Linked DNA regions of Homo sapiens: regions 2 and 3 are each linked to region 1. The links come from fine-mapping of genetic effects on plasma protein levels. Region 1 holds a variant in brackets. A gene starts in each other region. All regions are shown on their forward strands.

Evidence for each region. A credible set is the group of variants that fine-mapping cannot tell apart. PIP is the posterior inclusion probability: the model's chance that the variant is causal. The UK Biobank Pharma Proteomics Project read protein levels with antibody pairs (Olink). The fine-mapping took linkage between variants from a reference panel, not from the people measured, so its PIPs are less certain.
Region 2: CEACAM16 starts here. The variant in region 1 is the best candidate, but not a certain one, in a credible set for the plasma level of the CEACAM16 protein (UK Biobank, PIP 0.51).
Region 3: it holds the start of TNN, and the variant in region 1 is the best candidate, but not a certain one, in a credible set for the plasma level of the TNN protein (UK Biobank, PIP 0.58).

Annotation. Positions count from the first base shown.
Region 1 is chr10:93,077,216-93,082,437 of GRCh38, forward strand. It overlaps CYP26A1 (cytochrome P450 family 26 subfamily A member 1), which reads left to right. Exons shown (of 7, transcript NM_000783.4): 7 at 1-670. The coding sequence ends at 89. Among named protein-coding and RNA genes, the nearest start is that of CYP26A1, 5.9 kb to the left of the region's middle. The variant G/A (reference allele first, on the strand shown) is at 2,670.
Region 2 is chr19:44,697,025-44,702,246 of GRCh38, forward strand. It overlaps CEACAM16 (CEA cell adhesion molecule 16, tectorial membrane component), which reads left to right and starts at 2,127. Exons shown (of 7, transcript NM_001039213.4): 1 at 2,127-2,236; 2 at 4,337-4,469. The coding sequence starts at 4,433. It overlaps CEACAM16-AS1 (CEACAM16, CEACAM19 and PVR antisense RNA 1), which reads right to left. Exons shown (of 2, transcript NR_186815.1): 2 at 2,014-2,153. RefSeq lists an enhancer at 1-299.
Region 3 is chr1:175,064,812-175,070,033 of GRCh38, forward strand. TNN (tenascin N) reads left to right here and starts at 3,022. Exons shown (of 19, transcript NM_022093.2): 1 at 3,022-3,124. RefSeq lists an enhancer at 2,343-3,542.

The sequences.
Region 1 (5,222 bases):
ATGGACCTCCTACAATGAAAACCAGTCCCACCGTGTATCCTGTGGACAATCTCCCTGCAAGATTCACCCATTTCCATGGGGAAATCTGATGAGCTTGAATGTTCAAACCTGAGACTTATTGGAAGTGTACATATGAGTTTTTAAGGAGTGTTGTGTTGACTTTATATTTAATTTCTAAATGTATATTATAATATTTATGTGTTTTGACTATACTACCACAATCTTTAAATATTAAAATAATGAATTTGTATCATTTCCAAATAAAGTAAAATTTGAAGGTACTTTTCTGGTATTTTAAGATTCCTGTTGGGTAAAACTCACCAGTTTAGTATTTTCTTAGTGTATTTAACCAGATTTTACAATGCCTACCTGGACTTATTTGTCATCTTTGCATCTGTTTTCTGTGAGAAGAAATCTTAGCTGTTTTTTATGTTAACAGTTATTAGAAAATATATGTCTGTGTGTGTTATTCCAGACGTATCTCTGTAAATTCTTCTACAGTCACTTAGATTCCCTATTTGGAAAATTGATCCAAGTTAATTTAATTTTTTTTTGGTTTGCTGTACTTTAGGGAAAGATGAACCTGAAAAGGTAACACTGAGAACTGTCACTCTAACCTCTCCAGCTTATCTAACATGTCATAAACATAATAAATCTGTGTTGTCCAATAGTGCCAGAACTGTTCTCTGAAGTTACGGTTTTAGATAAGACAAAGCCAGTCACTCCAGTTATGGACAGCTCTTGACTAAAATGAGACCAGAAATCATTGGCGTGTCACCTTTACTTAGAAGTTGCATATGGAAACAGTATTAGGAAAGGCGCATCTCTGGTTAAGATAAGCTGAGCCCAGGTTTTCTTTATTCAAAATGAGGCAGGAGGAGCAGATTTAGCAGACTGACAGATAAAGTTTTTATCTATCCCAGGCAATAGGGTGTGAGCCTGACATGACTGATAAAATGGCCCAGTCATGACCCTGTGAACCTTGGCTAACCTCCGTGAAAGCGCAGTTTTGTCACATTTCTGACCCTGGCATAGCCACAGTCTGAACTGAAGGCCAGACTCTCAATCCAGAAAGGTTAGCCCCAGTGACTTGCTTATGCAAGCACATTTTTGGTTTTGGAATGGCACAATCTGCTCACTGAACCTCTGATGACTTGTAGGTTTCAAACTTTACATTTTTCATTACAATTTTAGAATTTGGCAATACTGCAGAAACCAGGTGGTCTAAATAGGTGTTTGAAAAGTGTTCTGTCTACAGTTACATATTCTACCTGACTATAGTTTTTTAGGTAGAACTTGGGTTGTTCTTATTGTTGGACTGCTCTGAATTTTAAAGGATGTTTATGTAATAACTCATAATGCCGTTAAAAAATGAGACATTTCAGGCTATGTAGTTTCAGCCAAAGCTTTAGTGTACTATAGTGTGCAGAGATGACTCTTCTACCCCTAACATTTTTCCTGGACATTTCCAGCTAGGAGCATGCTAGACTGAGGGCATAATTATTTCAGATAATTTCTACAAAGGCATTTTTAAATTTTATTTTATTTATTTTTTGAGACAGAGTCTCACTGTGTCACCCAGGCTGGAGTGTAGTGGCACAATCTTGGCTCACTGCAACCTCCGCCTCCTGGGTTCAAGCGATTCACCTGCCTCAGCCTCCCGAGTAGCTGGGATTATATATGCACACCACCATGCCCGGCTAATTTTTATATTTTTGGTAGAGATAGGGGTTCCACCATGTTGGCCAGGGTGGTCTTGAACCCCTGACCTCAGGTGATCCACCCACCTTGGCCTCCCAGAGTGCTGGGATTACAGGCGTGAGCCACTGCACCCGGCACAAAGCCATTTTAAAACAGCTTTTTTTTTTTTTTTGAAACAGCCTTGCCCTGTAGCCCAGGCTGGAGTGTAGTGGTACAATCTCAGCTCACTGCAACCTCCACCTTCCGGGTTCAAGTGATTCTTGTGCCTCAGCCACTTGAGTAGCTGACACTACAGGCGCATGGCACCATGCCTGGCTAATTTTTGTATTTTGGGTAGAGATGGGGTTCTACCACATTGGCCAGGCTGGTCTCGAACTCCTGACCTCAAGTGATTCATCCGCCTTGGCCTCCCAAAGTGCTGGGATTACAGGCATGAGCCACTGTGCCCCATCTAAAAGAGTTTTAATACTTTTCATTCTTCTGGAGGACAGCTGGCCTTTAAAACACTATCTTCGCTGACTTAGTGGCTCTGTTTCTCTGCGAATGTAGTGCAGTCGGAAATCTGAGCCATCTTAACATATCATTCATTTTTTAATCTGGGGAGCTTCGAGGAAAGTGCTTCTGGTTTGCATTTCCCAGGGCTAGATTTAGCCCAATTATCCTGATCAGTTACAGAGTAGCAAAGAATTCATCTTGAAAATACGTTAAAAACACAATCTTTGATCATGTGCTTTGTGCAGAGGAAAGGCAGTCTGGAAGCATGTGAGCAAGGCTGCTGTCTTGGACAATGGGCCTGGGTCACATCTCTCTGGGTCAAGTATGTTTTATGGCACAGTCACCTCTGGGCTGGTGTCCACGTGATGGAGAAATGATGTAGATTTGGCCAAAACTGTGGAAGGAGGGGACATGACCCCTCTTGGACTCACTCTGGAAAATGACCCTTCGGGCTCCTAGCAGCATGGTGTAGC[G/A]ATAGGGGTGCTGTGCTGTCCAGGGCTGCTGCGGGTGGGCGACCAAGCTGGTGCCCTCTGCTTCCCCTTGCGCAATGCCCTTGGCCCTTGCTGCCTCCCATGTTCTCTTCAATCAGGACTGTGTTGCCACCAACCACAGACCACTGTCAGGACTGAGATGTGAAAGCCTGAGGCTTCAGCATTCAGAGGGATTGGAGCCTTTACCTAGCAAGGTCCTTGGAGGCCCAGAGACAGACTGTAGTTTTCCTGGGGCCACACAGGGAGTGGCAGAACCAGGAAAGACCTCCAGATGCCATTTTTTTTCTTTCTTTTTTTAAACAGCTAATAACACTTGCCCGATTTCTAACTCGCTGTTGCCAGACATAATCCAGGGGTCTCAACTTCCTAGCTTCCTTTTATGTCCCCTGCTACCACTCCCGTGCCAGCACAGATCAATTCTCTTGCAGGTCCCCAGAGGTGGTTGGTGAAATGGGAGCGCTGAGAGGAGGTGGCTGCTCCCCGAGACTCCCTGTCTCCGGTTGGGGTTTCAGTGCTTTTTGCACCCTGTTACTCTCCAGAGATCCACAAGGGGGCGGGCTTCTCCCTTCTATGCCAGGCTCAGAGGCCAGTGGTTTTCCCCACCAGTGTCCACGAATTCCAGTGTACAAGACTCTGGCCCAGGGCTTGCTTTTACCCCGGACAGTGAGAAGCTACAGGCCACCCAGGGCTTAGCAAGTACTTAGCACCAGGTCTGGTCAAGGCTGCCTGGCCCCTCTGGAAGGGGTCATCCCAGGCTGGGCTGACCTGCGCGTCTTTCAGTTCCTGAAGCAGCCGCCAACCCTTGGTGGTCTATGGGGTCAGCGGCCCAGGTTTCCAGCATTGCCCCCACACTGCCCACGTGTGGCTTATGTTGCTTTCACTCTACCTGGAAAATCGCTGTCAGTTTTGAGGGAGCAGGGAGCACAGTTTCCAAAGAACGCGGGCAAACTAATCAGCCTTCGGATGACCGCAACCAGGTGCGGGAGCCACCGCACAAAAGCACCTAGGGAGGAACGAGGGACGTATAGGGAGGTTGCGGTGGCTCCTTTAGACAGTCAAAGGGCTGCTGTAGTAAACACAGGTTCAGACCCGTTCTGAGGGACAGAGCATGCTCTTAGGAGGGTAAAGTAGGAGAGAGATGCTGGCGCCATGTAAGGAAAACATTCTGAGACAACTCCAGCCCTTTGGTGATGAAACAGGCTACCTTGTGAGAGGGAGAGAGTGAGCTCTCTGTCAACAGAGGCAGCCAAATACAAAGCTGGATACCTAAGCCGCCACAGAGATCAAGACATGGAGGGTGAGCTTGGGTTAGATGACCCCCCATCCCCCTTCCAAAATTAAACAGTTGTGAATCTCCGAAATGTGATTCTGTATTAATTCAGTTCCTCAGATACCCACTTTGAAATGCCTGGGGCTGTGGAGATGGGACATCCCCACGTCCTATTCCAGAGGCATTCAGCAGTCTTTGGTGATCATTCTCCCAAACCTCAGAGGCAGATGTGGAAGTGGGAGCCCAGATATGTGACCTCAGAAAGGCACCAAGTGCCCTGTGTTGACTGCCCAGGGACCTCTCCCCTGCCCTGTGACTTGGTGTTTCCTGCTCCAGGTCCTGTGTCTGCTCCAACCACCCCTAGTTCCCCCAACCTGCCCATGCTGACCATTCGCTTGACCTGGCCTCTGGGGTCACATCCTGCTTCCTTCCCCAGTCCTCCCCGGGTCCCCATAATCCCATGCACTGACATTGTCCTCTACCCATCCCAGCTGTCCTTTGTCTCCACCTCCTGAAATGTGCTGGGAGGCAGGAACTGTGTCTCATTGTTCTAATCTTATACATTTAGTCCATTTTCACATACCTCTCCAGCCTCCCCTGGAATGTACATGTAGTAGGTGTTCTCTGGAAGAAATACTTCTTGGGGCCAATTGACACCATTTACCTTATGTTTCTCCAGCTTACATGGTGCCATGTTTTTCTTTGAAAAGTGAAACTTTCATCCTTGAAAAATCTCAGCGGCCGCAAGCATACACGGCTGTGGTTTAACAGCATGTCACATTCCTGAAACCGACGCTCCACGGGTATTTGACCAAACAAGCTTTCCTTCCTTTGAAGTAGAGTCAACTCGAGTTAGAACCCTGAGACAGGGATGAAGATTCAGCCTGGGACTGCATGGTGGGTTTTCTGGGTGAGACATATCATGTTGCAATATTCATAACCACGCACCCTCAGCACAGAAGCTGCCCCACACTGTAAGATTTCTCACTGCTGCTGAGCCCTCCCTGGTACGTTGAGGAGTTAGAAACCTGTTCACGCCTTTAGGATGGTAGATGCTTCAGGATTTTTGTTTGTTTGTTTTGTTTTGTTTTTTTTGAGATGGAGTCTCACTCTGTCGCCAGGCTGGAGTGCAGTGGCACGATCTCAGCTCACAGCAACCTCCACCTCCCAGGTTCAAGCGATTCTCCTGCCTCAACCTCCCCAGTAGCTGGGACTACAGGGACGCTCCACCACGCCCAGCTAATTTTTGTATTTTTAGTAGAGAT
Region 2 (5,222 bases), not on the chromosome of region 1:
TATTTTTCTCCACAGCATTGTCCCCACCTGTTCTAACACTGCTCATGTTTGTATTCGTCTATTAACTGTCTCCCCAATCAATAGGTCAGCTCTGTGTCTACCGTATTCACGGCTGTAACCCCACAGCGCCTAGCGCAGTGCCCGGCACATAGTTGGTGCTCCATAAACATTTGTCAAATGGTGGAGGAACAACGACCACTGTGCCCCCAGTACGTGCTCTGAGGCAGGCCCGGCACGGAACACTCCATGTGCCTATTTTGATCCTCAGAAGAGTCCCAGGGAAGTCAATGTCATGAACACCCCCCACCCACTGCACAAACAGGAAAAAGCCCCTGCCCACAAGAACCCCGTCTGCTTTCTGCGCAGCCCGGCGGCGCACAGCAGGTGCTAAAGAGCCTGCAGCTCTTGACTGAACCAAGGATCTGGGCTCACAGCCGGGAGCACCAGAGGAGGGGCCAGGGAGGTGGAGGATGGGGGCAGACTAGGAAGGGTGGATGTGACGATAGAGGGCCTCTAGAGCCCGGCCTGGTCACACTCCGCAGGCAGACAGCAGATCACCAGGAACCTGAGCCTCTCTGAAGACTCCTCTCTCTGTGTCATCCACACCTGGTGTCCAGTTCCACAAACATGCTGTGAGCCTCTGCTCTGTGCCAGGTGATTTGCTGGGCAGTGCTGGGGACACAGTGGTGACAGCCCAGCCGTGCCCAGCTGAGGCTCCCAGGCCAGTGGGGGAAAAAGACCCAGCCCCAGACAGCGAGAACCCAAGGCAGTCAGGGCTGAGACAGGGAATTCCAGGCCCTGAAGTCCAGGAGGGCTTCCTGGAGGAGAGGGTTTGGGGAAGGCAGTGGAATAGAGCAGAGGGAAGCAGGGATATTCTGGGTAGAGTGCAAGTGAAACAGAAGAACTGAAGCAGAGGGTTCCCGGAAGCAAGTGGTATTCTATGTAGCTGGTCAGGTGGGCAGGAGTCAGGCCGGGCAGGGCCTCCTGGGCTACAGTGAGGAACCTGGGCTTCCTCCCAAGGGCACTGGGGAGCCACAGCAGGTTCTGAGCACGGAGGGGCAGAGGCAGGTTTTTGTTTTGGAAAGAGCCTCTGTCTGCCATGTGGAGGGGCAATGGGAGTCGGGGAGACCAGGGCCAGAGACTAGGGAGGAGGCTGGTGGGGAGACAGGAGGACCCAGGCAAGGTGGGGTGGTGGAGTGGTCACCTAGACCAGGGCAGGGGCTTCAGGGAGGGAGAGAAGATATACGTAGAGTCAGTTGCCAGAAGGGGTGGCGTGTTCGGGGAGTAGGGGGAGGCATCAGGGATGAGGCCCCAGGTCTCTTTTCCCAGCGATGAGGTGGGTAGTGGCGCCTTCCCTGATAAGGGCACCAGGGGAAGATACACTTCTGGGGGAAGATGCCAAGGTCAGTTTGGGACAAGGTGAGTGAGAGGTGCCCAGGGACATCAGGGAGGCATCCTGATTGATACTGGGATGAGGTCCCAGTGCTCTGGGCCAGGACGCAGAAGAGTGAGGTGAGGTCACAGGTGGGGAGAGGGGAGCAGGAGGCGCCAGGACATCCTCTGTGCCTCTCACCTGGCCTCACCCGCACCTCCTCAGGGCCTTCTCCCCCTTGTTAGAGCCCTGCCCCACGAGGGCAGCCCAGGACACAGTGCTGGAGGCAAACCAGGACAGGTGAGCACAGGTGTGGCCCCCTGCCCGGAAGCAGGCTGCAGAGGCCTCAGAGGAACCAGGACTCAGAAGCCATCAGGATGCAGGTCATAAGAACACAGCTATCAGCAGCTCTGGCACCACAACCCCCTCGGCTCCTGCCCAGCATCATCTCAGAGACACCTTCCCTGTTACCCTCCCTCCACCCCAATTTAAAGTAGCAAACCAGGCCAGGGGCAGTGGCTCATGGCTGTAATCCCAGCACTTTGGGAGGCCAAGGTGGGAAGATCACTTGAGGCCAAGAGTTTGAGACCAGGCAGAGCAACATAGCGAGATCCCATCTCTACAAAAAATAAAATGGCAAATCCCCTTTCTGACTTTATTTTTCAATCTGACGTGGAAGATATTTACCTTTCCTTTATTTACTCCGCAAATGTCGGCCCCCTGAGGGCAGGGATTTCATCCGTCTTGTGCACGGCTGCATCCTCAGCGCCTAGAACAGCACCTGGCAAACAATAGGTGCTCATTCAGTATTTGTCCAATAAGTGAATGAGTGATTTACTGAGCATTTACTCTGCGCCAGTCGTGGTAAGTACTGTACTTCACATGTGTATCTACTTAATCCTTTCAACAGCCCTGTGATGTGAGTACTATTGTTTTCCCTATTTTACAAATAAGGAAACTGAGGCTTGGCAGAGTCCATAAATTGCCCAGGGTCCTGGAGGTAGGAAACAGTGGAACTATGTCCAGAGCCTATACTTTTTTTTTTTTGAGATGGAGTTTCACTCTTTTGCCCAGGGTTCAAGCAATTCTCCTGCTTCAGCCTCCCAAGTAGCTGGGATTACAGGTGCCCGCGACCACACCCAGCTAATTTTTGTATTTTTAGTAGAGACAGGGTTTCACCATGCTGGCCAGGCTGGTCTTGAACTCCTGACCTCAGTTGATCCACCCACCTCGGCCTCCCAAAGTGCTAGGACTACAGGCATGAGCCACTGCGTCCGGCCATGAGCCACCACGCCCGGCCAGAGCCTATACTTTTAATAACAGGCATACCAATCAGACCCACGTCCACCAGGCTCTGGCTTAAATCCCTGACTTGTAGCCTCTCACTAACTGCTGTCAACAAACCTGAAGTAGGGTCCATATCATCTCTATTTTTTTGTTTGTTTTTGAAATGGAGTCTTGCTCTGTCACCCAGGCTGGAGTGCAGTGGCAGGATCTCGGCTCACTGCAACCTCTACCTCCTGGATTCAAGCGATTCTCCTACCTCAGCCTCCCTAGTAGCTGGGATTACAGGCATGTGCCACCATGACCGGCTAACTTTTATTTTTTGTTTTTGCTTTTGTTTTTTGAGATAGAGTCTCACTCTGTCACCCAGGCTGGAGTGCAGTGGTGTGATCTCAGCTCGCTGCAACCTCCACCTCCTGGGTTCAAGAGATTCTCCTGCCTCAGCCTCTCGAGTAGCTGGGACTACAGGTGCACACCACCACACCCAGCTAATTTTTTATATTTTTAGTACATACGAGGTTTCACCATATTGGCCAGGCTGGTCTCGAACTCCTGACCTCGTGAGCCACCTGCCTTGGCCTCCCAAAGTGTTGGGATTACAGGCGTTAGCCACCACACCCAGCTAACTTATATTTTTAATAGAGACGGGGTTTCGCCATGTTGGTCAGGCTGGTTGCAAACTCCTCACCTCAGGTGATCTGCCCATCTCAGCCTCCCAAAGTGCTGGGACTACAGGCACCTGCCACCACGCCTGGCTATTTTTATTATTATTATTTTTAGTAGAGATGGGGTTTCGCCATGTTGGCCAGGCTGATCTCGAACTCCTGACCTCAAATGATCCGCCTGCCTTGGCCTCCCGAAGTGCTGGGATGACAGGCATGAGCCAGTGCACCCGGCCATCATCTCTATTTATCAGAATAATAAATGGAGACTCAACAAGGGACTGTCCCCAGCCCCACTTTGGGTAAGTGCAGAGCTGGTGTCAAAACTCAGCTCTCCTTGGCCCCAAAGCCTCCGAATACGCCCATTTGACAGAGAGGGGAAAACAAGGCCTCCGAAGTGGGAGAAAGAGAATGTGAACTTCTGAGCACTTTGCAGGAAGCCAACAAGAAGGAGAGCCCCAAAGAAAGCATGTGGCCATACAGTTTCCTGCCCTTCTGTCTGGGTTTGCACACAGAGCAGGGCTCAAATCCCCTCTCCCTGCAGGAACCCGGACAAGTGGGAGTCCCCACCTAGCTCATCTCCATCTGCAAAGGGGGGTCCTAAAGGTGCCCACTTTACAGGGTTGTTTTGCCATCCGCTGAGACAACACCTGTAGGTCCCCTGCACTGGGTGGGGCTGGGAAAGGTGCAGTCACCTTTTACTGATTTTCTTCCTTGGTGACTCCCAGGCTCTCTGAGGAGGCCACGGGCCTGGGTGGTTGGTAAGAACTACCCGAAAACCTTCCCCTACTTTTCCTCTCTTCTCCTCGGTGACCTGGTTCCTCTCCCAGTACCAAATCCAGGCCCTCGGCACAAAGAGGGTTAGGCGGCTGCCCCAGGAGGCCTGCCCAGGTCACGGCCTCTGGCCGGTGCCCGCCACACCCACCCTGGTACCCAAACCGGGCCCCAGATCCTTGGTGACTCGATCCCTCCAAATTCAGGTGATCTCCCCTGGCTCCAAATCACCAAACCCTCCCAGGTCCTGCGGCAGACGGAGCCGAGCCCCAACCAGGAAGGGAGTCCGAGCACTGGGACTTCAACGCCACCATCTCCAAGACTCGGTTTGGGGTGAAAGATGGCGCTGACTGGGTACAGCTGGCTGCTCCTCAGTGGTGAGCGAGAATGGCACCCCCCAGCACCTCAGCCCCCCGAGGACCCCAGGGAGGGGAGGGGACCCCCAGTCTGAGAGAGGGAAGGTGTGAGCAGAAGTCCAGCGTGCTAGGGAGGGAGGGCAGCCCTGCTTCACACCGGCAGTTTACCCCTCCAAGAGGCATCTGCATTGGGCAGGCTGGGGACAGCCACCCAGAGAGGTTTTCAGGGTGGGCTTTGGAGATTTCTAAGCCCAGGGCACAAGCCAGGACAAGGGAGCCGCTGTTGCTCCTTCATTCCTGCAGGTTTCTGTTTTATCAGCTATGGAAGCCTTGATGAGGCTAAACTCTTCCCAGCAGCTGTTTCTCCCGGAAGATGTAGCTTAGGGCAGTTGCCTTTCCCTTCTCAGCCTCTGTGTACCCACCTGTGAATGGGGCCTCACTGACAGGGTCATGTAAAGGTCATTATAAGCAGCACCACATATGCCGTGTGCCCGGAGCTGTTCTGAGAGCTTCTCATGGTTTAAAACCACCTATGAGGGGCCGGGCAAGGTGGCTCACACCACTAATCCCAGCACTTTGGGAGGCCGAGGCGGGCGGATCACCTGAGGTCAGGAGTTCAAGACCAGCCTGGTTAACATAGTAAAACCCCATCTCTACTAAAATACAAAAAATTAGCTAGGTGTGGTGGCACATGCCTGTAGTCCCAGCTGCTCGGGAGGCTGAGGCAGGAGAATCACTTGAATCCAGGAGGTGGAGGTCACAGTGTGCCGAGAC
Region 3 (5,222 bases), not on the chromosome of region 1:
AAAGATATTTGGAGAAATGGCTGCTTCTAAAGGACTGGGTAGGAGAAGTGCAAGATCAGTCTGGAATATCTTGCTGTGCCAAAAGTAAGGAAACACTCAAAGAATGATGGAAGTGTGTTAAAAGCACACAGTAACCAGCCTGAAGGGTTCACCCTGGCCAAATCTGGGGCAATTTGAGCAACAAAATAATGATAGTACAGGAATATAACCCATAGAATGAAAAAAAGAATATGAGTCACTTTGAATATAAGGTGATTAATAAAATAAAGGTGGGGGAAGAAAAATTACTTTTTATAATAGAATTCTATCTAGTAAACATAAAAAGAAAGATGAAATTAGGAAAATCGCCATTTGGCAGCCAGCATAGTAGTAATTGTTCCAGGCAAGAATCAACAATGGGTGTTAAAACTAGTGAGTGAAAATATAAAAAGAAGCAGAATATTTACATGGTTTAAAAACATCATCCCACAATATACCTGTTAAATAAAAAAGGGCAAATATTTACTGTGGAGAAACCTGGCAGATATCACCCTAACCAAGTGGTCCAAGGTAACATCACCAACACTGGGACAGACTGCCATCAAGTGTCTCCTGATGTGATGGACCAAAGACACGCCGCTTCTGCCGCTGCCTGCCAAAAACGTATGGCCTAAATCTAGGCATGAAAAAATACCACACAAATGCAAACTGAGGACATTCTTTAAAATAACTGACGTTTTCTCTTCAAAAATGTTAAGGTCATGAAAGATAAAGATTGAAGAACTATTCCAACTTAAGGAAATTTTAAAGACAGGACAACTAAATGCAATTAATTATCCTGAATTGAATCCTGGGTCTGTAAATTATTTTTCTTTTGCTATAAAAGACATTAGAGAAACAATCAATGGAATTTGAATATCGTCTGTAAATTAGACAATAGTATTATGTCAATGTCAATTTCTGATTTTGATCATTGTATTGAGGTTATGAGAGAGTATGCCCTTGTTGTTGGGAAACACCCTATACTAAAGTTTTTAGACATAAATGGGTAAAGAGATAAATCATGTCTTTAATTTGCTCTCAAATGTTTTCAGGGAAAACTATTAAGAGAGAATGAATGATTGGCAAATATGACAAAATGTTAACACTTGGAGAATATGAGTGAAGGGTATACAGGGATTCTTTTAATATTTTTGCAATTTTTCTGCAAGTCTGAAATAATTATAAAATAAAAAGTTTTTGTTTTTGTGTTTGTAAGGAATGAGCACGCACTTCCATCTGCCCTCATCCCTTTACCCTTCCTGTTGGCTGGGAGATGATGACCCTAGAGAGTGGTGGGTGTGTGCTGTGGATGGTGGCACTGCCCTACCAGCCCTGGGCCACTGTCTTCTACTGTTTGGGGAGAAATCATCTATGTTGTTAAGTCACTGCATTGGAGGGTCTCTTTGCTACAGCTCCATGTCCTGCAACTAACTAATACCAGCTGTAATAAGGAGAGATTGGAGGAAGGTGGCTTCTTAGGAGCCTGGTGCACTGGTTTAGTTATTCCTATTGAGGGCATGGAAAATGGGGTCACGGAGAGAGTTGGTGAAGACCACTCATTTGGGGAGAGTTAGTGAAAGGAAATTAAGAATAGGAGAGCAACTTGAGGGCGCAATAGAGTCTTAGGATCCTCTGGGAGAGATTTTCCCTTTTAAGAAGCAGAGAAAATAGTCCAAGGGAGAAAAGAGATGTTTGGGAGTTGGGAAATTTTCTGGTGACCCTGGTTCCTACTGCACTGGTCACCTCTGTATATGGCTGGCCCAGATTCCAGGGCCAGATAGCAGGATTATTTGTGGTTGTAAGTGAAGGGCAGAGAACTATGAACCTACCTGGACTGAGGTGGAGAGGATCAAATATGATTTAGTGGGATACATAAGGAGAATTAAAAAGTTATAATAATCATGGTAGCAGGTAATCTTTACCAAGTCCTCATTGTGTCTTGGGACTAGTCTAAGTTCTTTACCCCATCTACTCATTTGAACCTCACAATAACCATAAGACACTATTCCTATTTTACAGACGAGTAAGCTGAGCCACAAAGAAGTTGTCAAAGGTCATTTGCAAGTAGCAGACACAAGCTTCAGATCCAGGCAAGCTGCCTCTGGGAACCCCCCTCCAATTTCTGGGGGCCACTTTTTGGTCCCCCGTCTCTCCTTCTCCTTTCCCTCCAGCAGCATTTGATGCTGACATAGGTGAACTGGAAACATATGGTCTCCTTCATTTTGTTGTGGATCTGCACTCCAGAATCTACTTCCCACAGAGCAGGAGAGGGATGGGGTGTAAGGAAGGGTGGCAGGTGTCAGCCCATGCCCTATTGAAATGACTCTGGTTCATAGGAAGGATGAAGGCCTGTCCATCTGAGGGCAAAAGAGGAAGGGCAGCCAGAAAGGGGCACGACTATTCTTTCCTGATTTTGGAGCTCTTGTACTGTTGGCGTGTGGGAGGCATTTGGGATGGGGTGAGGGTCAGAGTGGGCTTGTGGGACCGAATGTCCCCAGTCTGTTATTCCTGCCCCCACTTCAGAGTCCTGCCACTCACAAGTGTGAGACGATGGATGAAGGAGGAGGGAAGTCAGAAGAGCTTCTGTCCCTGAGGGTCTCTGCTCATTTCTTTCTGTGCTAAAGGCTTTTTCCCATTTTAAAAGCAGTAGGCAGGAAGTCCCAGAATGCCTGAAACAGGAAAAAGAGAAAGAAACTTTATAAATGCACTTTTGAACCCCGAGACCCAGCTCCTGGCCAGGAGACAGGCAAACTCTTTTAATATCCTTATTCTGGATTCACTTAAATGGAAACAGCCTCCAGTATTTTTAGCTGCTGTGTAATCAAAGTGAAAAAGAAGAAGGAAATGTATATATTTTTCTTTCCTAGTTAGAATAAGAGAAGGAATTGCTCATTATCTTTTAGCAGAGTCCCTGCTAGGAAGGGAGGAAAACACCAGGAGTCTCCATTTGCTCCTCCTCTGGCCTAGACAGGATTTAAACCCAGGAAGGGAAGCCAAGGAGAGACGAGAACCAGGGACGACCAGCAAGTACCAAGGTCTGCGGCAGGAGGAGACCGGCTCACAGGAGCAGCAGCATTGGAAGAGGCACCCAGCAGCCTCCCAGGTAAGAGTGCCAGTTGCCCAAGCTTTACTTACTGGAGGGAGGGAGGTGGCCAATGCAGATGAGCTCAAAAGTGGTGGCTCAGGTGCCTCCGTTCCCGAGCCTGAAAATCCGGGCAGTGTAATTAGTCTCCTATCACCTCCATGAAGAGTTAAAATGAATTGGGAAGTACCTCTCAGGACCCGTGTACTGCATCCTTAGTATTATACTCCAGTCTCAGACAGGGCTAAGCATAGTTATCCTCTTTCCTGCAACACAGATGCGTCTGTGTTGTATCAGCTTCTACCTGGCGTAACACATTTTTGTATAAAATGTTTCCTTTAAGATGTTCCTTCTCATTTTTTTTTCTTTTTAACTTACTTACAATGTCAAAGCTTTCTCTCTCTCTGTCTTTTTTTGGATAATTTAGTATTGTTGTATTTCATTATTCTTTTAAATCCTAAAACAGAATTGTTATTTTAGTTATGATTAGGAAGCTATGATAACTTTCCCTTTGTCTGGATTTTGTGTGAATCAGTTAAGGGGATGTTTGCAAACACATTTGAACAGCTTTGAAGTATCTCCAGACATTTAATTTTACAGGTTTTAATTATTATTTGTTAAGACGACAACTTCTCTCGAAATCCCCATACTATTACCCTCACAATACCTCAAAGAAAACATTTCAAGACATCTAAAAAAATGATGTGGTTGGCCGGGCATGGTGGCTCATGCCTGTAATCCCAGCACTTTGAGAGGCTGAGGCAGGTGGATCACCTGAGGTCGAGAGTTCGAGACCAGCCTGACCAACATGGAGAAACTCCGTCTCTACTAAAAATACAAAAAATTAGCCGGGCGTGGTGGCGCATGCCTATAATCCCAGCTACTTGGGAGGCTGAGGCAGGAGAATTGCTTGAACCTGGGAGGTGGAGGTTGCGGTGAGCCGAGATTGAACCATTGCACTCCAGCCTGGGCAACAAGAGCAAAACTCCATCTAAAAAACAAAAACAAAACAAAGCAAACAAACAAAAAAAACTAGTTTTTGGAGGTCTTACTTTTTACTTATTTATTAATTTTTGTGCTTGGGAGAGATCTGGGGGAAGGATGGAGAAAGAATGAATGAGAACAGGCAGGGCTTCACTTAAAAGCATGAAACCTGTGTTGCTTATATAAGCATTAAAAAAAAGAACAAGTTCCAACATAAAAGTAACAAACTGCCCACATTGGGACACAGGTTAGCCACAGTGCCTAAAATCCACTGGTTCTTGGAAAAGCTGAGGTGTCACCAAGGCATCAGATGATACCTTGCTCGGTCAGGGCTACGTATTGGCAGCTGGCCTCTTGACATTCAGACATTTGTTGCAGACTCAGAATCAAGGTGACAGTGTCAGACACAGGAAAAAATAGAGTATCAATACTGGTATCATTTTTCCAGGAGAGAAGGGAAGAAGGCACCTGGCATTCTTTCATACAACTCTAAGTACTGCTTTGTCCCCAGTTTATAGGCTGCAGCTGACTCCCGAAGGAGGGAAAATAGAACAAATGATTTCAAATCATCCCGTGGCTTCTGGTTTTCCAGTCCAGTGCTGCTCTGTGGTTTGAAATGTAGGGTGGGCAGAGCTCTCTTTCTGAGAAGATGCCTGAGGAAATTGTGCCCAGGCCCAGTGGAAACTTTTGTCCATTCACTGCTCATTCCAGAGCCTTGGCTCCTATAGGATCTGGATACAGACATGAGATCATGGTTTAGGTCCTGTAGCCACATCTGGAGCCACCAGTCTGTGAGCAGAAGTTGCTAAGATCTCAGGCCTGATCTCTGGATGGACAGGGACTTTGCTGCTTCTGCCACAGTGGACTCACTGCTAATGCTGCCCAGCCACCATTTGAATCTGTACCCAGCGAGTGTGAGTGGAACAGTGCAAATGCTTGGAAATTAGCAAACGCTCTCCTCCTTGCTAGAAGACTGGAACTTTAAAGTTACTTCAATATGTGGAAAACAACACGTTAGCTAAAGAAAGAAATTGCAGAGTTTTTTGTTTTGTTTTGTTTTAATCTGACGCCCCTCACACCCATGGATATTAGGGCTAATTGTATACAAAGTAATATTTAGTCATTCTGGGGACTG